Linked DNA regions of Homo sapiens: region 2 is linked to region 1. Evidence: fine-mapped expression QTL. Tissue or cell type: cerebellum. Region 1 holds a variant in brackets; the other region holds the start of a gene. All regions are shown on one strand. Distances are from middle to middle.

The links. PIP is the estimated chance that this variant, and not a neighbour inherited with it, causes the effect.
Region 2: RAB26 starts here. The variant in region 1 is fine-mapped to the expression of RAB26 in cerebellum (GTEx, PIP 0.93).

Annotation. Positions count from the first base shown.
Region 1 is chr16:1,171,271-1,179,439 of GRCh38, forward strand. The region is part of intron 2 of CACNA1H (calcium voltage-gated channel subunit alpha1 H); the gene reads left to right. Among named protein-coding and RNA genes, the nearest start is that of CACNA1H, 22 kb to the left of the region's middle. RefSeq lists an enhancer at 1,517-2,018. The variant G/C (reference allele first, on the strand shown) is at 4,043.
Region 2 is chr16:2,143,662-2,151,830 of GRCh38, forward strand. RAB26 (RAB26, member RAS oncogene family) reads left to right here and starts at 4,964. Exons shown (of 9, transcript NM_014353.5): 1 at 4,964-5,317; 2 at 6,280-6,390; 3 at 7,908-7,949; 4 at 8,034-8,100. The coding sequence starts at 5,123. RefSeq lists enhancers at 1-211, 2,861-3,412, 3,965-4,516, 4,517-5,066, 5,067-5,618 and 4 more and silencers at 4,605-4,654, 4,665-4,934, 4,945-5,034, 5,125-5,294, 5,305-5,434 and 1 more.

The DNA.
Region 1 (8,169 bases):
CCTGGGCGGGCTGGGCGTCTGGGGGGATCGTGGGGCTTTGGGGCTGTCAGCAGCCCAGGGGGGTAAGAGGACGAGGCCCAGATGGGCCAGTGGCCCTGGGGACAGGCTTTCCTTAGAAAGTCACTGGGTTCCCGGGCAGAGAACCCCCGCAGCCCACTTTTTGGCCCTGGGCTCTGACCACAGAGTCTGCAGAGCCTGGAGCCCGGAGGAGGCCCGCGGGAAGCTTCTGGAAACAAAGGTCGAATGGAGATGGGGGTCAGGGTGGGTTTTATTTTCCAGGCATTAAACTCCCTTGGCTGCCGCAGAAAACCAGAGGCGCCTCAGGCGGCTTTTGTCCCTCGGAGCTGTGGGGTTCCCTCATTTCCAGTTTGCCAAGGCCGCCTGGGGGCTGCCTCCGTCCTTCCCGCCTCCTGGGCCGTGCCTCGGCCCACAGAGACCACCACCCTCCCTCCCTCCTGGAGTCCCTGGAGCTCTGGGCAGCCTCCCACCGTCCACAACTTTGCCACCCTCTCAGGCTGGGCAGACACTACCCCCAACTCGGCTCCGTCTCCGAGCGCCAGCTGGGTCTGAGGCGTCTGTTCTGGGCTCTTCTCGCCCACAGACGAGAGGGTCAGGGCAGAGCCCAAGGCCAGGGAGCAGTGTCCACGGGTGGGGGCATGTTCACAGGCCAGGCGGGCGCCAGGACGGACGCTGGGGTCCAAGTGCGGCATGGGGTTCGCGTGGGCCCCCCGCCAGGTGCTGTGGAGTCCGAGTGGGTCGGCTCAAGGTCCTGGGGTCCCCAGCAGCCTTCACTGAACTCTGAAGCCAGCCTGCAGGTGTCAGACGTCACCGGGATGATGCTGGGGTGGACGGGGCCCCGGGCCGCAGGGCGTGGGCCGCACACGGTGGGTGTCAGGGGCGAGAGTGGCTGCGTGCCTCGATCCGGCTGGCCCAGGGCGAGTCTGCCTTTCCTGCCTGACCCCGCCCCTGGAGCTTGGCAGGGAGTTGGGGCTGGGGCTCCCCCCACAGTGCATCACCGCAGCCTTGCCTGTTGAGTAGAAAGGAGCTCGGGGAGCCAGGCCGTGCCATCCCCAATGTTCCAGGCTCTACCTGGGCCCCTCTCACGCCGTCCCTAGGCTGCCCCCAGGCGTCCTCCCCTCTTAGACGGTGGCAGCGCGGCTGCCCTCACCCTGCCCTGGGCCTGGCCCGCCTCCGTCTGGGGTGGTCGTGGGGTCCCCAGCAGGACACGTAAGTACCTGTGTGTTGTCCCGAGCATCACCCGCTCTGTGGAGGGAACCCCGAGGCGTGGGAGCAGTGGGTAGTCTGCACTCCACACCGCTGGATCCTAGCAGGAGCTCCCGGCTTCTGTAATTAAACGATTTATTATTAAAGCAGCCGCTTTCCCATAACCGGCTTCCTGTAGCCACAGGGGCAGAGCCACCCGCATGGGTGTGGGGCAGGGAGGTGCATGGGGTGAGCTGGGGCACCCTTCTCCCCGGGGCACCCAGGGGCGGAGTGGGCTGCTGCTGCCTGGGTGCCCCCGAGGGCTCCTGTCCAGGCCCAGGGCTGTGGGCTGGGAGGACTCACGGCTTTGCTCCTCCGAGGCGGGGCAGGGGCTGTGATCAGGGCCAGGACAGCCCCGTGGGGACTCTCGCAGTCACTGGCCCTAAGCCTTGTTGGTCCTCGGCAGCTGGCCCCAGGGACACCAGGTCCCTGCAGGTGGGTGCTGCCTGGGAGGGAGGGGAGGGGTGGGGCCAGAGTCCCAGGGCCGCAGACCTGCCCTGGGTGTGGCGTGGAGAGCCCTCTGTGTGGCCATGGGCCTGGGGAGCTGGGAAGCCCAAGTGTCCTTGTGGATATTGGGGTGTCGAGGTGTGGGGCAAGTTGGAGGTCCTAGCGTGTTTAAGCAGCTGACGGGCGCGAGGTGGAGGTGTCCAAAAGGCCGAGGCTGGAAGGGGGCAGTAGATGGGGTGCTGGTGGCCAGGCAGGGAGGAAAGGGGTGCGGAGCTTTGCAGGGGTTTGGGTGGGTGGCATCGGGAGGCCCAGCAGGCAAAAGGTGGCCAGAGCCCTGGGGTAGTGGGATGCCCTTCCGGAGTGTGGGATGAGGCGTGCTCCCCCACAACCTCCAGAACAGCGGCTGCGCCTCCAGGCCTCGGGCCCCTTCACGCTGGTGCGGACGGACGAAGCCCAAAGCCTCTGCTCCTGGGTTCTCTCTCTCGCTATTTACTTTTTTAGTATTTAACATGAAAAATTTTAAAAAATTGTTTACTAACTTAACCACAATAATAAGCCCTTTGTGTGTTAACATAACACGTCCTTTTATGGAAAAGGTTATATTTCTCAAAACGTTAAAAACTCAGTGAGAAGAGGGGCTGTGTTTTGCAGTTTTGCAAGACCCTCTGCCTGGCCTGGTGGAAGCATCCGGGAACGCCCGTCGGAGGGGTGAGGGAAGGAGGGTGGGGCTCCCCGGCCGCCGTGCTGAGAACCACTGGTCTAAACCAGCAGGCTCACCCCGGGAGAATTCCCCTACTCCTGAAAGGCTGTGGGTGTTGACCTGTGCACACAGTGGGGCCTCACACCACATGGGAGTTGTGGACATTAACCTGTGCACACAGTGGGACCTCACGTCACGTGGGGCTGTGGACATTTACCTGTGCACACAGTGGGGCCTCACACCACATGGGAGTTGTGGACATTAACCTGTGCACACAGTGGGACCTCACGTCACGTGGGGCTGTGGGCATTGACCTGCGTGCACAGTAGGGCCTCACATCATGCGGGCCTGTGGAAGTTGACCTGTGCATACAGTGGGCCTCCTGATACGGGGAGCTGTCACCTAGCTGGCCTCACAGTCCATGCAGCTCTGAGACCCACCACAGAGCCGTGGCCCCTCAGATGAGGGGACTGAAGCAGAGAGTCTCCAAGGAAGGGCAGAGGTCCTGGCGGCCTCAGTTTGCTCCTCCCTCTCATGGCACCCGGCTGAAGTCTCCTGTGGGGCTCCTGGGTTCAAGGCCACCCCATGGCCACGGGCCAGCTGCCTTTCTCTCATTTCTCCTGGAGCGCACCCTTGGTGGGAGCTAGACCCCAGAGCCCAGGATATGGAGGTAACTAATGTTTCACAGCAGCCAAGCATGAATTTAGCCCATTGCTGCCAGGATGGGGGGCTCCATCTCGGGGTGCTGGCATGAGGCTTTCAACAGCTGCGGTCAGCACAGCCCACCTGGCCCAGCCTGGACTCTGCAGGGTGGCAGCTGGGGTGTGGCCATGGGGAGGGAGGGAGGGAAGGAAGGATGGGGTCACTGTAGCTCTCGAAGGGAAGCCCCTGCCACGCTCAGGGCTGTCTGGGCCCCTCCCCAAGCAGGGGCAGAGGTACCTTCCAGAACACAGCAGAACAGCGTGTGTCCAGCCCCCAGCTGGGAGAGGAGAGGCGCCCAATGTTAGTTTAAAAAAAAATGACTCAGACAGTTCACAGAGCCTTCCTTTTCCTGCTGGCTTCCAAGAATTCCGATCTGACTTAATGGATCGAGTCGTTGGTGGATCGATTCAGACATGGACGAGAGCCAGGATGGCCGAGTTGGCGTGGCCCTGGCCTCGAGGCTCCCCGGGGCCCAGGTCTGCAGCCAGCTGGCGGTGGGCAGGCAGGGGGCCGGCGGGAGGCCCCCACCCGCACCTTCACCCCCAACCCCCACGTCCACCCCCCCACCCCCCACCTCCACCCCCACCAGCCGGGCCTGGCCATGGCTCCGTGGTGGGTCTCAGGGCTGCATGGACTGTGAGGCCAGCTAGGTGGTGGCTCCGTGTATCAGGAGTCCTACTCTACGCACAGGTCAACTTCCACAGGCCCGCGTGATGTGAGGCCCCACTGCGCGCGCAGGCCAACGCCCACTGCCCCACGTAATGCCCTACTGTGCGCGCGGGCCAACGCCCACTGCCCCACGTGACGTGAGGCCCTACTGTGCGCACAGGTTAATGTCCACAGCCCTTATGTGGTGTGAGGCTCTACTGTGTGTGTAGGTGTGCCTACCAAGGGAAGCCCTCCTGCATGTGGGGTCCCCTGCTGGGTTCT[G/C]GGGAGCCCCGGGAGGGCCACTCACCTTCCCCGCAGGTCCCTTTGGTAGTTTTGCATTATACAGGCTGGTTGTGGGGCAGGGCTTTGAGGGGGTTGACAGGAGACAGGGTCTGGGGCCCTCAGGACTCCCCACTGCTGTGTCGTCGCTCCTGCTGGGCCCTGGCCTGGGCTGGATGCACCCCTGCCCCTCCACCCTGTAGCCTCCAGCTCCTAAGCACCACCCACTCTAGGTCCCCGTCTGCTCGCCGTGTCCCGAGCTTGTCCTTCACTGTTGCCGTGCCCACTGCTGACAGCTGGCCCCGTCCATTTACTCTCATGTCCGAGAATCTGAAGCGGTCCCTGACACACACTAGTTACTCCGCAGATGCCGGAGGGAGGAGGAGGAGACCAGATCTCCTTCCTAGAGGAAGATCCTGGGAGTGGGTTTTGAGGGCTGCGTAGGAGTGTTCCCAGGCTGGGCAGGTAGGTGGGCAGTGGGCGTTGCAGGCCGCGGGCGAGTTGGGCTGGGCTTGGGATGGTGCGTTGAGGGGCGTGTGCCAGTGGCCCCTGCCCGTCTCGGGCAGACCTTGGGCTGCCATTCCTCCTGCCCGGACCCCCAGTGCAGGCTCTGCAACAGCCTGGAGTTTGACCCCAGTTCCTCCGTCTGGACCTGGCCTGGGGGCTGCCATGCTCCCAGGACATCCTGGTGGCTGCTGGGTCCCAACCCCGTTCGTGGAGGCGCCTCCCACTCCCATCGCCCAGTCACAGGACACACCGTGTCTAGCGGGCTCTGATCTTTACACCTCATCGCAGATTGGCTTGCATAATGGCTCAGCTGGGTTCTAGACTTTGGGAATTTCAGCCTAACCCATTAAACATAAACGCTGTGTGGTTACAGATGCTGTGTGGTTAGAGATGTTTGTGCTGGAGCTGCCCTGACTGTCGGTTCTGAGCTTGGAGCTCTAATTAGTGCCCGACGGGGCATCTCACCCACCACGGGAGGGCAGGGGCGAGGCGCAGCAGCAATGTCTCGGAGCTCCCCTGCCCATCCTTGGGTCCAGCTGTGAGGACAGCCAGGCATGGGTCTGGGAGGGCTGTCCCCGCAGAGTGGGGTCGGCCGCTCCTACTCTCGGCAGCACCAGGGTCTCTGCATGGACCCCAGCTGCCGTCTCTTTCTGCAGGTGGGCATGGCAATGACCTGTGGCTCGGGCTGAGGAGGCCTGGGGCCAGTACTTCCCCCCATGCTCAGAGGTGACGGGCCTGGGCTGCTGTGGGGATTCCGAGAATGGAATCTGGGTCTCAGGTGACCCCCCAACCAAGGGGTTCCGGGTTTGTCTGCACAGGCCCCGGGACCAGCCACTGTAGCAGTGAGCAGGGGGCTGATGGGGGTCCGGGGGCCGGCTGGGCACCAAGTCTCTGTGACCCACAGGGGATGCTCATGAAGCTCAGTTTATCAGCCCAGAAAATGATGGTGCTGGGAGGGGAGCGGGGCCGCCCCGCCGGGGAGCTGCCTCTGTCCTGCCTCCCCTCGGCCCTTCCCCCGCGTCTCTTCACCCCAGGGGACGGGGAGGGGGTCCTAAGGATGATGTGGCTTTCTGAGGGCTGAGTGTCTGCTACGGCTGCTGTGAGGATGTTCCGTGGACAGGGTGGCCTGGGTTTGGCTTAGGTGGGGGCAGAGTCCCCAGGCTGGGAGGAGGCGCTGGAAAAGGCCTGGGCAGCCTCACTCCCTCCCCCCAGGAGCTTCCCCCAGGCCCTCCGCACCTTCTCTGAACCCTACACTGAACCCCAAAGGTCACTGACTTCACAGGCTGCCACCTTCAGGTGTCTGTCCTGGGCGGCCCTTTTTGTCATTCCACTGACATTTACAAAGGACATCTCGGACTCTCGGACCCTTGGATTTCTAAGTGACACAGGCTGGATGGAGTTTGACTCCACCAGGGGCTGCTGTCCCCCAGGCCTCTCCCAGGGCCGATCCCCTCCAGGGCCGGGTCCCCTGCTGCCCGGGCCTCAGCCCCGGCTCTGACATTTACACACTGCAGCCGCCGGCACCCTCGGAGACAGCCTGAAGTTCAGGGCCGAGGGCCCTCCTCATGGTACGGTGCGGGGACGGCGTCTGACCGAGGCCCACCCTGCCGTCGCCCCGGAGTCCCCCAAGCTGGCACAGCTAGCGGCTCACGGTCACACGTCTGTCATAGGTTTGAGGGCTGAATTCTGACCGGGGCAGAGAGTGGAACGAGCTCCAAGTGAGAAATGGGGTGTTGGGGTGGAAGGGAAGGGGCCCCCCAGGACAGGCTTGGGAGGGGGCGTCCTAGTGTGCTTGGGCTGTGACAGAAATTCTGAGGACGTGGTGGCCGGGGACAGAGGGAGTGTGTTTCTCGGTTCTGGAGGCTGGACGTCCCAGGGAAGGGCTGGGCAGGATGGGGCTCCACGGGGGCCACTTCTGGGTGCAGACGCCTGCTTCTGCCTGTGTCCTCACCTGGTGGGAGGTGGAGGGGTCTCTCGGGGTCCTTGTTACAAGGGCATTAACCCCATTCCTGAGGGCTCCGCCGCTCCTGACCTCACCTCATCCCAGTCACCTCCCAAAGGCCCCACTGGGTCTCAGCGTCTGAACTCCATGGGGACACAAACTCTCCGTCCCCAGCAGGTGCCCGGGCTGCGGGCACCGCCCTTTCTCCCTGGGACCCCCGGGGTCTCTCCCGCCCCCTCTCCCTGAGGCCTCCCCCACTCCCTCTCCCTGGGGACCCCATGGTCCCTCCCCCACCCCGGAACCCCCCCCCCCATGGACTCTCCTGCCCCCTCTCCCTGGGGCCTCCCCCGCCCCCTCTCCCTGGGGACCCCATGGTCACTCCCCCACCCCGGAAACCGCCCCCCCATGGACTCTCCCGCCCCCTCTCCATGGGGCACCTCATGGTCCCTCCCGGCTCTGCCTGGGATCCCCCAACGGGCTCTCCTGCCCCGGCTCCTTGGATCCCTCCATGGTCCCTCCCGCCCCCTCTTTCTGGACCCTCCCCCACGGCCTCCCCAGCCGCCTCATTTACGGGCTTCTTCTGGTGCCCCCATATTCATATCTCAGAGTCCTAACCCACCCCCGAGTCCCCATATTCATATCTCAGAGTCCTAACCCACCCCCCCAAGTGCCTCAGAATGTGACTGTATTTGGAGATAAGGGCCCTTTCGAAGGGGGTTAGGACTAGGTGAGGCCACAGGAGGACACAGATGCAGAGGGGTGACAGTGGCGTCTACAGGCCAAGGACAGCAGCCGCAGGAGGAGCCGGCCCTGCCCACAGCATGGTCTCGGACTCCAGCCTCCAGGCTGTGGGAGAGTGAGCGTCTGTTGCTTCAGCCGCCGCCATCCAGCAGACCAGCATCCAGCCCCAAAGGGGCCACACTGTCCCTCGGGTCCCTCCCTGACCCCTGGCCAAACCTGGCTCACCCCCGGCCAGGAGCTCCTGGGCAGGTTGGGCCCAGATGCCCCTGCCCCTGTCTCCTCCAAGCTCCAGAAGTCGGGGTTGGGGTGAAGAGATGTGGCGGAGTGGCCGGGGCAGGCAGGTGTGGCTGCCAGGGCAGAGGAAGGACCGAACGGTGGCATCTCCCCAGCAGGGTGGCCCCGCGCCCTTGCCAGCCCCGGAGGACCAGATGGTGGCATCTCCCCAGCAGGCTGGCCCCGTGCCCCTCCCAGCCCCACCATTTTCCTCGGGATAAACTGAGGCTCTGTGACCTCTGTCAGGTCACAGAGACCCTGTTGGGTGGTGAATGGGTGACCCGTGGACACCAGGCTGTGGCGGGTGTAGGGTTCAGCCCTCCCTGCACACTGTTACTCAGACCTGCCTGGGAAGCAAAACCACAGCAGAGCCACCCCTGGCTGGGCCTGGCCGTCGTCTCCCCAGGAGTGAGAGCTGTGCTTTTATCTGACGCGCCTCCCGGGACTGGTGGAAGGGGTGTGTGGCGGCCCTGTGGGTGGGGTTTGGCCTCAGGGGCTCCTGGGTAGGGTGAGTTGGGGGTCCCTGACCTCAGTCACCAGGCTGTGGTGGACGGAAACCCTGGCTGACCAGGCATCGGGGATTGGGGGCCCCCCCATGGACTCTCCTGCCCCCGCGAGGTTGGGGAGGTGGGAGAGCCGACCGAGCCGCTGCTGAGTGGCTGTTCCG
Region 2 (8,169 bases), 970 kb after region 1:
GGGGGTGACCTCTCAGGAGGACACCAGACTGCTGCACACCTGGACACCGGAGAGAGCTTACCTGTGATGTCACCCACGTGCTGGGGTGACTCAGTGCTCCTCTCTCGGGTGGAAGTTGCGTTCAGTGCTGCCGCAGTTCCTCCAACGTCTCCATGGCAACGTTCACACGGATTTCATAGAACATAAGGTGTTTGAGCTGGAAGGGACCTCAGAGATCGGCTCCTCCTGCCCCCTCATTTCATGGAGAGGGGAGCAGGCCCAGACAGGGAATGCCACGTGCCCAGGGGCACATAGCAAGCCGGGGACCCCGCGGAGGGCACAGACCGCTGAGCTCCAGAGGAGGGTCTTGGGAGGTGCCCTGGGGGCACAGGCCGTGGCGGCTTTGCCACTCCCTGGCTTGCTAAGAGCCCCTTGAAGTCCAACCCAGCTCTCTGCTGCTCAGCCACAGAGCTCTCGCTCGAGTGCCTGGCGGGAACAGGAGTAGGCAGGACAGGGCCCTGTCCTCAGGAGGCTCCCAGGCTGCTACAGCGGCCATGCAGCCGCTGGGGAAGGGCTGGAGAGCATCCAGGGAGCCAGAAGTGGGGCAGGAGGAGCCAGGGCAGGCTCCCTTGAGGGTGGGGCTCCAGGCAGAGTCTGGAAGCCTGAGGAGGCCTCACTCGTGCCTGCGCCCCCTCTCCTGGCACACAAGGGCCAGCCCGAGGGCCCCACTCTGGGGGCAGAGTGTAGGGAAGAGGCTGGAAAATGGGGGCCAGAAAGAGACTGTCCTGATCCATGGCTCCCAGGGGTCGTTTTGGCTGGGGGCTCACAGCACACATCCTTCCAGACACCCAGGACGGTCAGAAGGAACTGGCAGGAGTTAGAGGGCACGGTGTAAGGATGCCAGGGGGCCGGGCCGTCAGAAGGTAACAGGAGCGAAAGTCCCAGAGCAAGGCCCCAAGGAGACCCAGGGCGCTCTCTCCGCTCGAGGACAGGAACCCGTGGAGACCTTCCCCTCCCTGGAAGAGCCAGCTCTGCACCAGAAGGGTGGGGGGCTGTAGCACCCCTCCCAGGGGAACACGGACCTCACTCTCCGCCCCCAGCTCCCAGGGCCCATCTCAAACTCGGACCCTGTCTCAGGGACCTGCCCTGGCCCACAGGACTCCTCTCTTCTCCAGGTCTGAAGATGCCAAGAATCCGGACATCCCAAGGCCTCCCTGCTGAACTTTCCCACCATGCCGGCCCCCGCCTTGCCCTCGCCGGCCCCCGCCTTGCCCTCGCCGGCCCCCGCCTTGCCCTCGCTGGCTGCCTGTTCTAGTTTTTCTAGTTTTATTTGTTGTTGTTGTTGTTGTTTTTTGAGATGGAGTCTTGTTCCGTCGCCCAGGCTGGAGTGTGGTGGTGCGATCTCCGCTCACTGCAAGTTCCACCTCCCGGGTTCACGCCATTCTGCTGCCGCAGCCTCCCGAGTAGCTGGGACTACAGGCGCCCGCCACCACACCCGGCTAATTTTTTGTATTTTTAGTAGAGACAGGGTTTCACTGTGTTAGCCAGGATGGTCTTGATCTCCTGACCTCGTGGTCTGCCTGCCTCGGCCTCCCAAAGTGCTGCTGGGATTACAGGCGTGAGCCACCGCGCCCGGCCTTTTTTTTTTTTTTTTTTGTGGAGACCAAGTTTCGCTCTTGTCGCCCAGGCTGGAGTACGATGGCGCGATCTCGGCTCACCACAACCTCCGCCTCCTGGGTTCAAGCGATTCTCCTGCCTCAGCCTCCTGAGTAGCTGGGACTACAGGCGCCCGCCACCACACCTGGCTAATTTTGTATTTTTAGTAGAGACGGGGTTTCTCCATGTTGGCCAGGCTGGTCTCGAACTCCCGATCTCAGGTGATCCGCCCGCCCCGGCCTCCCAAAGTGCTGGGGTTTAATCCATCTTTAACCCACTGCAGCATCCCACTGGTCTCTGCCCATGGGCATGGACTCTGACCCTCCCCTCCCTGCCTCCAGGCCTACAGCTTCTTTCCTGAAGGTCCTCTCTGTTCCTATTATCCCTCCCCTGGGTGACTGCAACCCCCATCAATCTCATCTCCAGGCCTACAGGCTCCACCATCCATCCCCTCCTGCCAGTCCCCAATATTCCTGTAGCACAGCGTCCTCTGTTGTTCTGCTCAAAAGCCACGCACAGCTCTCTACTTCCCGCTGTACAATTTCCAAGCTCCTAGGAATAACACTCAGGTTTCCCTTCCCAGCTGACCCCATCCTACCTTACCAGCTTGATTACCTCCCGTTTCCTCCAAGGAACTGGGCCACACTTTGGCCACCTCGGCACAAAGTGCCCATCTCCTAGCACTCTCAGCCTATGCATATTGACTCCCTCCACCTGGGGACTGTCTTTCTCTCTCGTGTCGGACTCTAGCTCAATCCTCAAAGCCCAGTGCAAACCCTCCCTCCCCCAGAAGCCTTGCCCTCACTACTGATCACACTTGCCTTAAATCTTTGTTAGCAAGGACATGTCCTCCTGAAGTGAGGCCTGTGTTTCTAAGTCACATTTCTTTCTCTTTTCTTTTCTTTCTTTTTTTTTTCCCCAGAGTCTCGCTCTGTCACCCAGGCTGGAATGCAACAGCACAATCTCAGCTCACTGCAACCTCCTCCTCCTGGGGTCAAGCGATTCTCCTGCCTCAGCCTCCCGAGTAGCTGGGATTACAGGCGTATGCCACCAGGCCCAGCTAATTTTTGTATTTTTAGTAGAGACGGGGTTTCACCATGTTGGCCAGGCTGGTCTCAAACTCCTGGCCTCAAGTGATCTGCCTGCTCAGCCTCCCAAAGTGCTGGGATTACAGGCGTGAGCCACCACACCTCTTTCACCAATTTAATAACTGCTTATGGAGGCCCAGAGCTGGCTGCTGGGGACAGCAGTTGACCAAGACAAGCTGCTTCCTGTGCCCGGAGAGCTTACACTCCAGAGGGTGAAACAGATGGCAAACACAGCAACCAAGAGACATAATGATCAAAGATTCCGAGGCCTGCTGGAAGCCAAGAGAGGGGTCTGTGATGCAGGCACCCAGAGCTCCCCATTTTCAAGAGAAACCAGAGACTTGGATTTTTATGTAAACTCTCCTAATTTTAAAGGTTGCCAGCGCAAGCCCGTTTCCTCTGCTCTCTCAAGGCTCCCCTCCCCGCCTGGCCTCCCACTTTCTCCAGCGCGCCTGCCTCCTTCTCTTCCTGGGGGCCCCATCCGCACTCCTCCCCCTGCAGGATGCCCTACTTGCACCCAACTCCTCCTGCTGCCCGCGCCCTGGGGGTACCTGAGCAGCAGCTGGCAGGACGGGGTCCACTGGACTGGGAGTCCACTGCCCAGGACCCTGGGGCCAGTGCACAGCAGCTGCTGAGGCCCCCAGCTCAGACCCTGGGCCAGCCATCCTGAAAGAGGCCTTGTAGCGCGGGTGGACACCTGGAGTCCCCAGGGCTGCAGCTGCAGAAGCTAAATGCCTCTACCCAGGCCCAGTGCACACACACTGGGGGTTGGTCTGGAAGAGCTGGGGGGCCAGAGGAGTGAGACAAGGAAGGGTTCTGAGAGGGCTTCCGGGTTTGACCCCCAGCTCTGCCAGGTTCCTGGGGATTAAGTCTACAGGGATTTCTGCCATGGGACGGTTTATGTTCTCTGGAGCTGGAGATCACAGGAACAAATCCTAGCTCTGCCCTTCCTAGCCTGCTGACCTTGCACAGGCTCCTTGCCTTTCTGGGCCTCGGTTTCCCCATCTGGACACTGAGGGCAGTACCCACCTTGCAGGATAACTTTGAAGAGGTCGTGTGCCTGGCACACAACAGTGCTTGCTGTAGGGCAGGCTTCCACGGCCTCTGCCAGGCCCTCTCGAGGAATCACTCTGCTGGGCAGTGCCCCCCATCTGTGTTTTCTCAGGCCTCTGACCCGAGAGGCAGCCAATTGTTTGGACTCTGGGCACTGCCAGCTGGGAGGGCTCAGGTCTCTGAAGGGCCCAAGGTCCTGGTGACAGCTGTCAGGTCTCCGGGGACAGCTGGGTCATCTCTCCAGCTCCCAAAGAAACACCAAGAAGCCCCTGCATGCCAAGGACACCACCCCTCTGGACCACTGTGCCCCAGCTCTGACCACTGCAGTCCCATCTTCTCTGTGAGAGGGGGTGACAGAGCTCCAGTGCAGCCCAGGTTGGGGAGGTGGGTCTGCCAGGGACCAGCTTAGGATTTGGAGAATCGGCCCTGGCCACCTGAAGGTCCGAACCTGGAGGAGAAGGACAAGGGGCCAGCCACACAGCCTGGGCAGGGGCCTCTGCTTTCCACCTTTCAGACCCTGAGGGCAGAGTCCCGTGGGAGGGGACCCTCAGGGGGCCGGGGGCTGGCTGCCACAGCGACTTCCTCCTTCCCGCAGATCCCCAGGCGTGCACAGCAGGCAGAAGCTGTGGGGGAGATCGCAGCGCCCGCTGTGTCCTCCCGGTGACCAGCTGTCACCTGAGCCCAGGGCGCCTGCCCCAGCAGCCTGGTGTGTTTGCCAAGCCAGGGCTGGAGCTTCCTGGACCCGCCTACCCTGGAGGGGATGGAGCAGTGAAGGGCACCGGGCCAAGCGCTAGGCATCTGGGGCTAAGGAGACAGAAGCCCGCGGTGCCCGTCCATGCGGGCCCTCTGCCCCAGCACCCACATCTCAGGACACCCCTTCCTCCCAGGTCTGGCGGTCCAGTTTGGGGGTCACCGAGCTGGGGTGGTGTGCAGCCAGCAGAGGGGATTCAGGATCCCGGGGTGACTCCTGGCCCAGGCCTGTCACCCCACAGCTGGCTCCTGGCCCCAAGGCAGCCACGGGCAGGGGTCGTGATCGGGGGCGGGACGGGGCCCGGACCTCCTGACCGCCCCCCACCCCCCGCCGAGCGGGGGTGTATTTGCATGTCCCCGCCCCACGCACGGCATTGGCGGCGGCGGCGGGAGGCCGGGCCTGAGTGGCTGCGCGCCCGTGGAGCGGCGGGGGCGGGGCGCGAGCCGGGCGCCCGGGATGATGCCGCCGCCGCCGCCGCCGCCGCCGCCGCCGCCAGGGGAAGGGTTCGGGTCCGGGTCGGGCTCGGCGGGCGCGGGGTGCGGGACGGCCCAGGGCACGGCGGCTGCAGCGGGAGCACACTGAGCGCCCGCCCGCCATGTCCAGGAAGAAGACCCCCAAGAGCAAAGGGGCCAGCACCCCCGCTGCCTCCACGCTGCCCACCGCCAACGGGGCCCGACCGGCGCGCTCCGGGACTGCGCTTTCCGGCCCCGACGCGCCGCCCAACGGGCCCTTGCAGCCCGGCCGGCCCTCGCTTGGCGGCGGTGTCGACTTCTACGACGTCGCCTTCAAGGTGAGCCAGGCACCCGCCCCCCAGGCCAGCGCAGCAGGTGGCGCCCGGCCTGAGCCAAGGGTTGGGGGTCGGACAGGGGGTGCAGGGCCCGCGGCCCCAGGGCGCGGAGCCGACGCGGGAGGAACCCCGTGGGGCTTGCACGGTGCATCGTGCACACACAGCTGTCCATCCCAGGTCTGGGGTATCCAACAGCTGGCAGGGCCTGTCCCCCACCCCCCAGGCGGCATGGTGGCACAAGGGGTCCCGCGCCCCAGTGCCCTGGCCCCCGCCCGGGGTCTCACCATTTCCCGTATGCTGCCCTCCCTCAACCCAGCGGCTGTGGGCCTTTTTTTTTTTTTTTTTTTTTTGCTGGGGGGAAGAGGTTTGCCAGATGGATGGGGAACCCTGGGACTCCAGACCAAGGCAGAGGCTGTGTGGACTTGGCAGGGGGCTGGGAGGACCATTTTGGGTTTGGTAGCACAGGTTTCGGGGAGAAGGCCTGACTGCTGCCCACTTGCACCTCCCCCCAACCTCAGACTTGGCCCAGGTCCCTCTTCAGATCGAGATCTGATCCTAATGGGGCAAATTCCTCGAGCCTTGCTGGGGTCATGTCCCTACTGGGATGTGGAGAAGCCCCCGGCAGAGGCCTCCCCAAGTCTCTTAGGAGGTACCCAGCTGCCACCCCACCTGCTCCCCTCCCAGATGCTGTCCACCGTGTGGGGGTATGGACGTTAGGGAGGGTCCGGGATGCAGGTGGCTGCCCTCACTCCCCGCTGACTGAGACGGCCACTGTGCAGAAGGACAGAGCAGCCCCAGCCTTTCAGAGGCATACGCTGGGTGTCCAGCCCATCGGGGTCCCTGGCCCCGCTGAGCCTGCAGGCCTGGGCTGCCTCCCTCCACTCCTGCTCCTCACCTGCAGCCCCCTTCTGACCAGGCCAGCTCAGGGCAGACCAGACTCCCCCCAACCCTCCTGCTTGTCCTAGGTCATGCTGGTGGGGGACTCGGGTGTGGGGAAGACCTGTCTGCTGGTGCGATTCAAGGATGGTGCTTTCCTGGCGGGGACCTTCATCTCCACCGTAGGCATTGACTTCCGGGTGAGTGGAGGCCCTGGCCTGGCCCCACATCAGAGTCCCGCCGGTACCCGAGCAGCAAGTTCTCTCTGATCCCCATGGTACCAACAGGCTCGAGGCCTGGACCCCAGAAGCTGCCTGCCTCGACCTTCCAACACCTGGGCTGGTGGCTGCACCCGACAAGCATAGTTAGTTGCCCTATGCCAGGGGCTGGCATTACCGAGGGACCATATCCTGTGCCTTGGGGGAGGCGGACACTGTTGCCTACAGGGTGGTGGGTCAGAGGAAGTCAAGGGCCACGTCCACTTGGGGCCAGCAGTGCTGCCTCGGTACAGAGGCCTTACTGGGCCCTAGAAGCACATGCTCCCTGCAGAGCCTGAGCGAGGGTTTCCAGGGCTTGCCTAGGGGAGAGGACCCTGCTCTTGGGTGAGGAGCGCCCACCCCCACCCCCACCAGCTGGAATTCCTCGTGCTGAGGTGCCGGCTTGTCCTCAGCAAATCTTAAATTTGCATTTTTCTCACCCTTTAATTAGAGCCAGTTAGAGGGAGGATGGAGGAAGGGCTGTTCCAGGGACAGGAAAAGGGGCTCCCTCCAGTCTGGGGGTTCCAAGTCCCCTCAAGTCCTCTGGGATGGAGTGACGACTGAAGTGCCCGAGGGGGGCAGGCCAGTCCTGTCTGGTCCCCACTTCCCCACCTCCCTCTTGGCTCTCGGGCAGGTGGTAAGAGGTGAGGCCATTTGGTTCGCACTCTCGTTCAGGGTGCCAGGGAAGGCGGTGTCCTCCCCAGCCCAGCAGATGGCCCTGCCTGGTTCCCGGGAGACCCAGAAGCACTCTGACAGCAGGAGCTCAGGCTGAAGGAGGTGGCACAGGTTCCAGCTGCCCAGGGCCTCAGACTGCGGCTGAAGCCCCCCGCCCCCACCCCAACAGATGGGACTGGGGCTAGACCACTCCCTGCCTTACGTCTAATCGTTAACTGGGAGGGCCCGGCTGGGGACGCTGCCAGGCAGTTCTGGGATCTGCGGTTACTGCCTTGGGTCAGACAGGCCCAGGCCCAGCCCTGACAATCCCAGCAAGGAGTGGCTTTAATTTTTTATTCTTTTGAAGCAGGGTCTCACTCTGTCGCCCTGGCTGGAGTGCAGTGGTGATCATGGTGGACTGCAACCTCCAACTTCTGGGTTCAAGCCATCCTGAGTCTTTCAAATTAGCAAAAAGAGCTACTGGGAAGGCTGAGGCGTTGCAGCTCGTTAGTTACTGCACCCATTTGCAGATGAGGAAACCGAGGCAGTGTCAGTAAGAGGCCTGGTGGGGTCATGAGTTCAAATAAGTCAGCGTAAGAGGCTCTAAGCAGGAATAGTGCAGAGGCTGCCGGGAGAGGCCTGCACTTGCAGGTGTGGGTGAGGTCAAATTGGCTTAAGGGAAGCCTGCAGGGGCTGGGCTGGACCTGGGAGCTGGGAGGTCTCAGGGGACAGGAAGGCAGTGAAGCTAGTGGGACCAGAGGCTGGGCTGGGCCCATGCCAGAGCTGCCTGGTTCTGTCTGTTTCAGAACAAAGTTCTGGACGTGGATGGTGTGAAGGTGAAGCTGCAGGTAAGGTGACTGGCAGAGGACAAGTTGGGGGACAGGGGACACCAGGGAAGGGCTGGACAGCCTGACCAGTGCCTGTCGCTGCAGATGTGGGACACAGCTGGTCAGGAGCGGTTCCGCAGTGTTACCCATGCCTACTACCGGGATGCTCATGGTGAGCCCCTGGGTACCTGGGCTGGTTGGGGCGGGGGTCTGAGCACCTGAGGGTGCAGGTGATGGTGGA